Regions from separate parts of the Homo sapiens genome. Here region 1 is linked to region 2. The links come from fine-mapping of genetic effects on gene expression. A gene starts in region 2. The other region holds a variant in brackets. All regions are shown on one strand. Distances are from middle to middle. Region 1 overlaps TSPAN3 (tetraspanin 3). Region 2 holds the start of TSPAN3 (tetraspanin 3).

Evidence for each region. PIP is the estimated chance that this variant, and not a neighbour inherited with it, causes the effect.
Region 1: its variant is the best candidate, but not a certain one, in a credible set for the expression of TSPAN3 in lung (TOPMed, PIP 0.61).

What each region holds. Positions count from the first base shown.
Region 1 is chr15:77,040,392-77,045,737 of GRCh38, forward strand. TSPAN3 (tetraspanin 3) reads right to left here. Exons shown (of 7, transcript NM_005724.6): 7 at 1,013-5,346. Among named protein-coding and RNA genes, the nearest start is that of TSPAN3, 28 kb to the right of the region's middle. RefSeq lists an enhancer at 2,747-3,946. The variant C/T (reference allele first, on the strand shown) is at 3,158.
Region 2 is chr15:77,068,740-77,074,112 of GRCh38, forward strand. TSPAN3 (tetraspanin 3) reads right to left here and starts at 2,370. Exons shown (of 7, transcript NM_005724.6): 1 at 2,153-2,370. The coding sequence starts at 2,215. RefSeq lists a silencer at 1,837-2,536 and an enhancer at 2,677-2,736.

The sequences.
Region 1 (5,346 bases), 28 kb before region 2:
GTGGGATAACAAAGATCAGCAAGTAGGCCGGGCACGGTGGCTCACGCCTGTAGTCCCAGCACTTTGGGAGGCGGAGGCGGGCGGATCACGAGGTCAGGAGTTCGAGACTAGCCTGACCAACAGGGTAAAACCCCGTCTCTACTAAAAATACAAAAATTAGCCAGGCGTGGTGGTGCGCGCCTGTAATCCCAGCTATGTGGGAGGCTGAGGCAGAACTGCTTGAACCCAGGAGGCGGAGGTTGCAGTAAGCTAAGATCGTGCCACTGAACTCCAGCCTGGATGACAGGGCAAGACTCTGTCTCGGGGAAAAAAAAAAAAAGATCAGCAAGTCTCTTTTCTACCCTATAATTTCTACATCTGTCTTACTTTCTTCATTGGATAAACTCAGGGGAGCAGGATTTATGTATGACTCAACTTCCCCACAAATAGCAATGCAGCAGCACCATTCAGTAGATACGAGGTTTCTGCCACGTCACTGTGTTACACCCTCAGGAGACCTCACAGATCTCACAGGCACTGCAATAGAAAGCCACGTGCAACACACAAGTTATTTTCAAGAACTGCAAGGATGCACCCAAAAAGCAGGTGCTGTTACACACCAACAACCACCAACTCGGAAATAAGTTAGGAAAACCATTGCATTCACAATAGCTACAGACATTAAGCTTCACAGAAAAGTTTCCTAAGTAAACTCTGTTAAGATCCGAAAGAAAAAAACCCAATAACCAATCAAACCGGGCAGAGGACAGAAGCAAAATTCAGAAGATACAAATGGCTGAAACACCTTTAAAAGCATCCTGGCCCTAGCTAACAGTCAAATAAACACATATTTTCATCTCTCAGAATGGAAGAAAAGATGAAGGCTGATCACACCAAAAGTGTCAACAAGGGTGTAAAGAAATGCACATTTCATTCACTGCTGGTGGGAATAGAAATTGATATAAGCTTTCTGGAGAGCAACCAGATGTATCCATGAAAATGTTTAAACGTGACTTTTTTTTTTTTTTTTTTTGAGACAGAGTCTTGCTCTGTCACCCAGGCTGGAGTGCAGTGGCATAATCTCGGCTCACTGCAACCTCTGCCTCCCGGTTCAAGCGATTCTCCTGCCTCAGCCTCCCAAGTAGCTGGGATTACAGGTGCATGCCACCAGGCCCTGCTAATTTTTTGTATTTTTAATAGAGATGGGTTTCACCATGTTGGCCAGGCTGGTTTTGAACTCCTGATCTCAAGTGACCCACCTGTCTCGACCTCCCAAAGTGCTATGATTACAGGCATGAGCCACTGCACCCAGCCAAACATGACTTTTCCATCCAGAGTAAATCCAACTAACAAGAATCCACCCTTGGAGTTCATGTAAAAATACATGACACAGGGTGATGAAAGTGCTTTGAAACTAGATACAGGCAGTGGTTCTATAGCATGGTGAATGTACTCAAGGCAACTTCTTTACTTTAAAATCGTTAATTTTATGCCATGTGAATTGCATCTCAATAAAAATTGTTTTCATTTTAAAAATTGTAAATGACTGCAGTGTGTGTATAGAGATGATCACTGTGGCGAGTAGTGGAGGCACTGGAGGCAGCCTGCAGGCCTGCCCTTTATACACCTTGGTTAATCATGGTACTAATGTACCCACACAGCTAACACAATGGAATGACAAATCCTACAGTTAGACATGGAAGGAGCATCAGACTATGTTGTGAAGACAGAAAGAGGATCTTGTAGGATAAAATTCCTATTAGCAAAAAGCAAAAACCAAAACCCAATACCAAGTCTGTTTCTGTGTATGTAGTCTGCAAAGACACATGCCATTGCTGAACTGCTGAACTTGCTTCCCTGTGGGTACTTCTTTACAGATGTCTGTATTGTTCACATTTTTTAAAGCACCAATTACTTTTGTTTAAAAAAATACACTTAAAAAAGGCAGTAAGACAAGCTCTGTCAATCATCTATAGGACAAGAAGCAAAGACACCCCAGCTGCAATAAGCACACCTAGTGCCAGGGACCAGGGCTCCTGGGACAAACACTGATCCATGGCTGGTGCCCAGGGGCCTGGAACATCTTGTTAGATCAGAAATTAGGGGAGTGCTTCCAAAAATGCTGGGATATAGGAGGCACTCGAAGGGGCTCTCGCTGGCCAAGTCGGGAACTATCTGAGGAACTCTTCCCCCATCCCCAAAGGTCAATGATGAAGTCGACTTTTGAAAAAATGGGAATCCATAGTGGATATATGAAAATAAATGAAGGAGAAGGGAGGGATGACTGGCAAATGAGGAAGGAGTGCTGGGCTGCAGAAACGTCGCTTGGCAGTCATCATAAAGATTGAATCAGGCCAGAATCAGCAACATTTGCTGAACCTGGTCGGGGAATGGGGAAGAGTCTCATGAGGAACAGGGTATGTACATGGAGACAGTGTGTCTCCAGAGATTTCTTATTAGTTGAAAAGAAAAAAACAGTAACCATGCTATGGAGAAAGTGGACACACCTCGACTAGGTGTGCCAGGTACTCATTTATTGCCTCTTAACTCCAAATTTCCCTGACCTTGCCCTTCCTTGTCACACTGAAGAGGGGGCTCTGAAAACTCCTTTACCCTTTGCCAGCCTGACCCACAGTGGGCTCTGAAGGGGCTAACAAGGCTAGAGGAGGAAGATGGCCTTTTTCTTCTGTCTCCTTTCGTCCTGCACGGGTCCCAGCAGCATTCCCCACCGTGACAGCTCTCTGCTCCTGTGGCTTGGCGGGGGGGCACCTCCAGTAAGTTGATTCTCCAGCATGGGACAGGCAGCATATCCCAGGCAACCACAGCCACCCCTCGGAGGTCTCTCCACCTTGGGGAACCTCCTCTGAGTTTCCACGTTCCTTCTCTGTTTTCTCTTCCCTTAGCCCTAGGGGTGATGGCTGTTCTCTGCTAAGCTGCTTTAGAGCTCTTTTTTATCCCTTTTAGTAGTTAACTACCTTCTACACAGTTAACAATTACTTATATTAAAACCTTCCTGTTCACATTTCCTCCTCCTTGGACTAGATGATCAAAACGAACATCCCCACTGTGGGGCAGATGGGCATTGTGTGCCTCGAGATGCGATGCCCTGAGAGGCCGCGTGACGCAGGTAGTGGTTCAGCCACCTGGAATGCAAAACCAAATCTAATCACGAGGAAAT[C/T]GCAGACAAACACAGATAAGCAGCACCACCTAAAACGAACTGTATCCTTACAAACTGTTCCTATCATCACAGACAAAGCTATGGAAATGATCCAGATTAAAGAAGACCAAGGAGACATGACAACTCAACTGATTACCTGATCCAGACCAGATCCAGCACCGCAGAGGGAAAGGTGCTATAGAGGACACGATGCGGCCAATGGGAATATGAGTGGTGAGGTATTCTATCAGTGTTAGATGGACGGAATTTGACAACTGTACTGCAGTCGTCAGAGAGTATCTTCTTCTTGGTAAGTACCCACTGAGGTATTAGGGGTAAAAGGCCATGACAGGTGTGGAGGCAGCAGGAGGGAGGGAGAGGGAGAGACAGGGGGTTGGCGCAAGGGAGAGAGAACGCACACACATTTGAGAACACACATGACAGATAGAATGGGACGAAATGTTAATAGGTGTATCTGGGCAAAGGATATTTGAGCCTCATTTGTACAGTTTTTATTCTTGCAACTTTTCTGTAGCTTTGAAATCATTTCCAAGTAAAATTAACTTTTTTAAAAGAGGCCATACAATATAGCAGTGGTCCTCAACCAGGGCTGTGTCCTGGACACACCCTAGAGCACCTTAGATGCTCTGGGACCCAGGCATCTGTAGTTCTCAAAGTGCCCCGGTGCTTCCAATGTGCAGCCACGGGCAGGAAACACCAGCCTAGTGGGTGAGCTCACTCACTAAATTTCAGACATGACGAGCAGTGCTTTTGCTCTCTGAAGAACAAGCACTGGGTAATGCCAACACCTAGCCTCAGCTACACGGGGGAAGGGCAGAAACAAGATGTTGAATTTGCATGGCCCTGGCCAACACAGACAACATCCCCTTCTAGTGGTTCCCAGGCAAGAGAAAAAGGCATTTCCAGGACAACTGTGCCAGGAATTAAACACAAGTTAAAACTGGCAGGAGCTGGAATGGTTTCCCAGACCTCAGAGCTACCTCCCCACCTCCATCTTTTTGGTCTCACTGGTAATATGGCCAGTCTGGGTCCAGCTGGCAGAGCACACGGGAGGAGGCTGCTCTCTCACCAGGCAAACTGAGGACTGAGTACAGGAAGGGTGTGGAGAATTATCCTCTTGGGCAAGTTGAAGAACAAGGCTACTGCTTGGCATATTTCCCAAAGCCATTTCCCACTCTAGAGGCCCTGTTCTGTCCTGTAGAAAGAGTGGAGAACAACCAACATCACAGTCCAAATATTGCTCACCTCAGGGCCAGCCTGTGACAGGGTACCCACAGGATGGTTCATATTGAAAACTGGGGGGACCATGCTCGGGGGAGGTGGTGGTAGTGAAAGGTCACAAACATTCTTGCCCACTGTGCAACAGGCAGGGGCAAGAGGTGGGATGGGTCAGTAGTCACATGATAAATCCCCCGGGGCCTCTGAAATCACATTCTGGTAACTTCCACTTTGTGAAAAGGAGTTAGTTTTTACTCCTCTCCTTTCCCGTGTCTTCTCCATTTTCAGGTGGGACAGATCTGCATGATATTTGGGCATCTCAAAACTGACGAGCCCAAAACTGACCATGAGTCACACCCCCAGATGTGTTCTCTAACTACTCCCTAGCTCTGTGACTTTGTTTCCCCAGTTGACTGAGCCAGAAACCTGGGACTCATCCTAGATGAGTCTTCTCTTCTCCCTTCTCTGTCCCACGTCCAATCAATGATCGAATTCCACCACTGTCCTGCCTCCAAACAGCCAGAATCCACCGCTCACCACCGCCCCCAACAGTGCCCTGCTGCCCACTGCTAAGCTCTCTCAACTGCTATGCCAGCCTAACTGAAGCCCAGTCACACCAATTCATCCTGGCTTCAGCACGGCCGGCTTGCATCACCACCTTCTTCTCAGTTCACCTTCCAAATCAAACCTCCAAAGAGCTGCTTCCACCTACAAGTCAGCTCTCACCTCCACAGGATGTTCCGTAAGACACTAGAGGGCCTGGGCTTTCCTGCTTCTCCAACTTCTTTCCCCAGCCTTGTATTTTAAGCTCCCTGCACACACAATTTTGTTTCACACTCTTGTGTACCATCTTTCAACAAAGCCTATCCAGCCTCCAAGCTTGGGCATCTCCTCCAGGAAGTCACCCCTGACCTCTCCGGAACTCCCCTTTGGACTCCCATTCTATTACTACAACCACTGCAGTGTGAAAA
Region 2 (5,373 bases):
GGTTTTCTGTTCCTGCATCAGTTTGTTGAGGATGATGGCTTCCTGCTCCATCCATGTCCCTGTAAAGGACATGATCTCATTCTTTTTTGTGGCTGCGTGGTGTTCCATGGTGTATATGTGCCGCATTTTCTTTGTCCAGTCTACCACTGATGGCCATTTGGGTTGGTTCCATGTTTTTGCTATTGTGAACGGTGCTGCAGTGAATATATGCGTGCAAGTGTCTTTATAACAGAATGATTTATATTCCTTTGGGTATGTACCCAGTAGTGGGATTGCTGGGTCGAATGGTAGGAGAACGTCATATAATTTCTACATGCCAAGAAATAGTATTCTTCTTTTCATTTGTTTTCCAGTCATTTAGAAATGTAAATATTATTCTGGGCTCTCAGGTTGTAGAAAAACAGGTAGCTAACCGTTTTGTGCTCTTGGGCCAGAGATTGCTGACTCCTGGTTTATAACGAGATGCTATGAGAATTAATGACTTAATCATTGTAGAATACATTTCTCTTTATGGAATAAAAAATGTTATGGATGCATAAGTAGCAGTAGGTATATAGATACGTATTAAATTAGCAAAAGATGCCCTTATAATGGTCAGATTCACAAATCATGCCACATCTACAAAGAGAAGACTGATACGACTTTTGCTAATGGAACTGGTTCTATATGTGCATTTCATTCTTCACAATAAACTCAAGAAACTGAAAAAATAAAATAAAATAAATAAATAAGCCTGTAACTCAAATTAAAGTATAAGAAACACTGCTCTAATTGGAAAAGAAGAAATCACGGAAATGCCAATGTCGCCTGGGTGTTTGCCAACAGCTACTACCTCCCAGTTAGGACTCTTCACACACAAACGCCCCGAAGGACTCTGGCAATACAAGTGTGTAGCAAGTGCTTTTTAACATATAACCATCCTTTTATGAGACAGCTGTCAGGATATGAAGTTTTATCCCTTGTTGGGGGGTCGGGGGAGGAGGAAAGGATTCTTTCCAGAACAGGTGTGCGTATGCGTGGGAGGGAGGAGCTGAATGGGGAGGAGGAAGAGGCACAGTATGGTTAACCGGAATGTTCAAGGAGTGCTCTGGCGACTGTGGACAGAGCAATCTGTCCAGGGCACTCAAGTGTTTAAGGAAATGACAAGTTCAGAGAGGCAAGGTGATTTGGGACCAGACTGAGGACTTCTGCTCCAAGACCAGGGGAAGGAGTTGAACCTTATTCTACCGCTGAAGCTTCTGTTTTCCTTATTTTCAGATCAAGTGATGTGATAGAGGAAACGTTTTAAAAGATTTATCCGGGTGCAAAGTCCAGATGGGCTGGAGGGTGGAGAGACGGATAGGAACAACTTAGGTTACTATAAAAGTCCCTGATGAGATAAGGACCCAAACTAAGATGACATAAACATTCCTTTCAAAGAGGGTGTACCCCTTAAAAATTCATAAGCCACCTTTTATTGAAAGTGAACTCATCACTTTCAAAATCTTGTGACATCTCCATCATATATTTAACCAAGAGTTATAATCTCACAGTTTGGTCACCCCCATGACCAAAACAAATAGACCGATGTTCTTGGTCAATGGATTATTTGGCTCCTCGAGTTGAAACCCTTCATTTTCTGGGCTGGTGACAGTCAGCCGGTTCTCCACACACAAAGGGCGTTAAGTGGAACCCCCGCCCCGGCTCCGCAGCGTCCCCGCGGATCTGCCCGCCTCGGGACGGCCACTCGTCTGCGAGGCCCCGACAAAGAGCGCGGAACCTGAGCCTCTGGCGAAGATCCTATTTCGAGCCCGACGTCCTGCTACAGTCTGCAATAAGCGCTCTCCGTCCAGCCGGCGACTCCGGGGGGGGGAGACTGGGGCGCCTGGCACGGAGCCAGCCCGCGTGGGCCGAGCGCGGAGGCGCCGGCTGGAGGCCGTGGAGTCCCTGAAGGCCTCCCCTCGCTGTCCTCCGCGCCCAGGCTCCCGGCTTGGTCCGGCAGGGACCTCGCGAAGCGGCCTCACACCCGGCCCTCCCCTCGCCTCAGCCGCCTGAGGGCCCGCGCGCGGCCCCCGCGCGCCCGCCCAGGCCCAAGCCCGGCCCCCACGGGCGCCTCCGCCGCGGCCTCGCCCGGCCCCGCCGCCGGCCCCTCGCTCTGCCCGGCCCCGCTCACCCAGAAGATGAGGTTGAGAAAGACCAGCACGGTCTTGGAGGAGGTGATGCCGCACTGGCCCATGGCGCCGGTGGCCCGCGAAGGCCCGGCCCGGAGAGCGGGGCTGCGCTCACCGAGAGAGCGGCAATGGCGGCGGCGCCTCCTCGCTAGGAACTGCACGGCCTGCGCGGCGCTCCCCGCAGCCCCTGCGCCGTCGCGCAGCCCCGACCCCAGCAAGTGCCTCGCTCCTCCGCGCAGCCGCCGCAGTCCCCTCAGGGCTCCCGCGCCGCTCCCTGGCAACCGAGTCCCGCCCCACGCGGCCGGTAGCTTCAGCCAATCGCCTCTGCGGAGGCTGCAGTGAGGCCACGCCTCTTAAAGGAGCCAAGGCCTCAGCGCCTTTTCTTGGCCTCTGGCCGCCCTTGGACGCAGATGGCTCCCTAGGGAGGTTCTGGTGGACCAAACCCACTCTCCTCCTATGACTATGCCACCCTTATAGATGATTCAGAGCCCTCTGAGTGCTATCTTTCTACCTAGCCCATTCTCCCCTAGGAAGGTTGGAGACACTAATCTCTGCCTGACCAGATTCTCCTGACCAGGTTAAAATCTTGGCAGCACTGTTGGTGAGAAGTGCAAAGAAAAACAACAAATACTTATGGAGAAACTTATTGTACCAGGCGCTGGGCTAGACCTCAGAAGAGTCAGAGAGGAGAAAAGGCTGGTGATGGCGTTAGCAAGGCAGAGACATGTTTGTGTGGGTGAGTGGTTGGGAACAAGTTCTATTCCAGGGTAGTAAGTTTTGGACCAAGATTCGCAACGATTACAGAAACATCTCTTTGCATTGCAACATTTCACATTCTTCCCCCAATCTTGAATCCGTCATAGCAATTAATTATTGGGTGCTCACCCGGTGCCAGGCTCCATTAGTTCATTTAACCCCCACCACAACCCTGGATGGAAGGCACTATGGTTATCAGCCTCATTTTACTGATCGGGTAATTGAGGCTTAGAAAGGTTAAGAAGTTCGCCCAGAGCCACACATAGTAAGTGGTCTAGTGCAAAAAACACATCATCAGTCACACAATAAACTGCCTCTGTTTGCTGTCTTTCCTGCCATTATAATCCTGCACTCCCTCCTTGACCGCGCCCGTAAGGATTTCCATTTACTGGTCTTTATCAGCTCGCTCTCATGCAATCTCCCCCACTCATCACCTTTCCCAGGCACTCTCAGAAGTACCTGTTAATCTCAGCATCCTGTGCATTTACACCAAGCAGCAGCAACAGCCATTTATTCACTCATCAAACTTGCCGCGTGTCCCCTCTGGGCCTCACTGTTGTCGGTGGTGGATATTCCACTGTGAGCAAGACGTATCCTTCCTTCCATGGCTTACATTCGTTCGGGCAGAGGAGGCAGACCATAAACAAACGGGCAAGTGGGTATATGACATGAGGTAGTGTTAGGAAACAATTCAGAGGAAAGGAATAGAGTGATGAGAGGAGTCCTCTCTGAGGAGAGAACATTGGAGGGGACCCAAGGGAGGTGAGGGGAACAGCCCAAAGATGAGAGCAGCAAGGACAAAGGCCCAGAGACCGGAACATGATCACTGTGCTGTAGGAAGGGGAACACAGAGAGCCTAGTGTGCTGGAGGTGAGCGAGGCCGGATCACCAACAGCCTACTACGCCAGGCAGAAGCCTTTGAGCAGACCAGTAACACCATCTAAGTGTTTCAAGTGCCATTCTTGCCATACCATGGAGGTCCTAGTTAAAGAAAGAAAAATGATGGGCTCTCAAACATGATTCCCTTTGAACATCTATCTTCTTGACGCCTCTGCCCTCTGTAAATTTCTCTGTCTGCTTTGCTCTGAGTGCTTTTCCTCCTTTTCCAAAACATCCCCTTTGCATTTCTTCATCCTCATCGTGTCCCTTCTCATTTCCCTGTGAAGGTCTCATCAAGTCCTTCTTGTGCCTTCTCCTTGAGTGGGTCTCAGACCCCCCCCCCCCCCACATTACAATCATCTGGGCCACACAGACAAACTCCATCAGATTCTCTGGGGGCGAGCCTCAGGGAATCAGGTGTTTTTCAAAAACACACCAGGTGATTCGAATATGCTGTTGGGGCTGCAAACCACAGTTCTGAGTTTACAAGCATGGTCATGCCTCTCCTATCCTAAAAAGAAAAGCCTCTCACTTAAACACCATGTTTTACTTTTTCTTTCTTCTCTTAGCCAAAGTTCCTAAAAGAGTCATCTCATCCAGTGCTTCTCAGACTTTGCCTTGCGCACAGATCACCTGAGGATGCAGACTCCAGGTGGTGGGGGTGCAGCTGGGCCCCTCTTTGTAGCAAGGGGCTGGACTTCTGCCCTTGACTCTTTTGCTTCCCACTCACTTTTTTTTGTTGTTGAGATGTAGTCTCGCTCTGTCGCCCAGGCTGGAGTGCAGTGGTGCAATCTCCGCTCACTGCAACCTCCGCCTCCCAGGTTCAAGCGATTCTCCTGCTTCAGCCTCCTGAGTAGCTGGAATTACAGGTGTCCACCACCACACCTGGCTAATTTTTGTATTTTTAGTAGAGACGGGGTTTCACCATGTTGGTCAGGCTGGTCTTGAACTCCTGACCTCATGATCCACCTGCCTTGGCCTCTCAAAGTGTTGGGATTACAGGCGTGAGCCATCGTGCCTGGCCTCACTTTTTGACTCACTGCCATGTGGCATCACCCCCACAGTGCCACCGATATCGCTCTTGTCAATGTTACCAGTGACTTATCTGCTACCCCTTCTCTGAGGTGGCATATATCATGGTTAAGAGCACAGGCTCGGGGACCAGGTAGCCTAGCTGGGTCCTCTCTCTGTGCCTCAGTATCCCCATCATAGGGAGAAAATGATGATGACATTACTTCCCTAATTATCATGTGATTGCTGTGAGAATTAAGTGCATTCATATACATATAGCTGTCAGAAAAGTACCTGGCACACAGGTGCTTTGTAATCACCGGAGTTTACTGTTTCCGAGACCTAACCATATTTGGCTCCGTTGACTTCTTCGTACTCAGAACTCTGCCTTTCCTTAGCTTCCATAACACCATCATCTCTTAGTTCACTGTCTGCCTTTGCAGCAGCACCTGTTCCTTGCACCCATTGGATGTTGGTGTCTCCCAGAGTTCTGGCTTAGGTCTTTTGATTTTCTCAACCAACCTGGGCCAGCTCACCCAGAGCACTGGATTCCGTTGCTATCCACGTGCAGGACTTT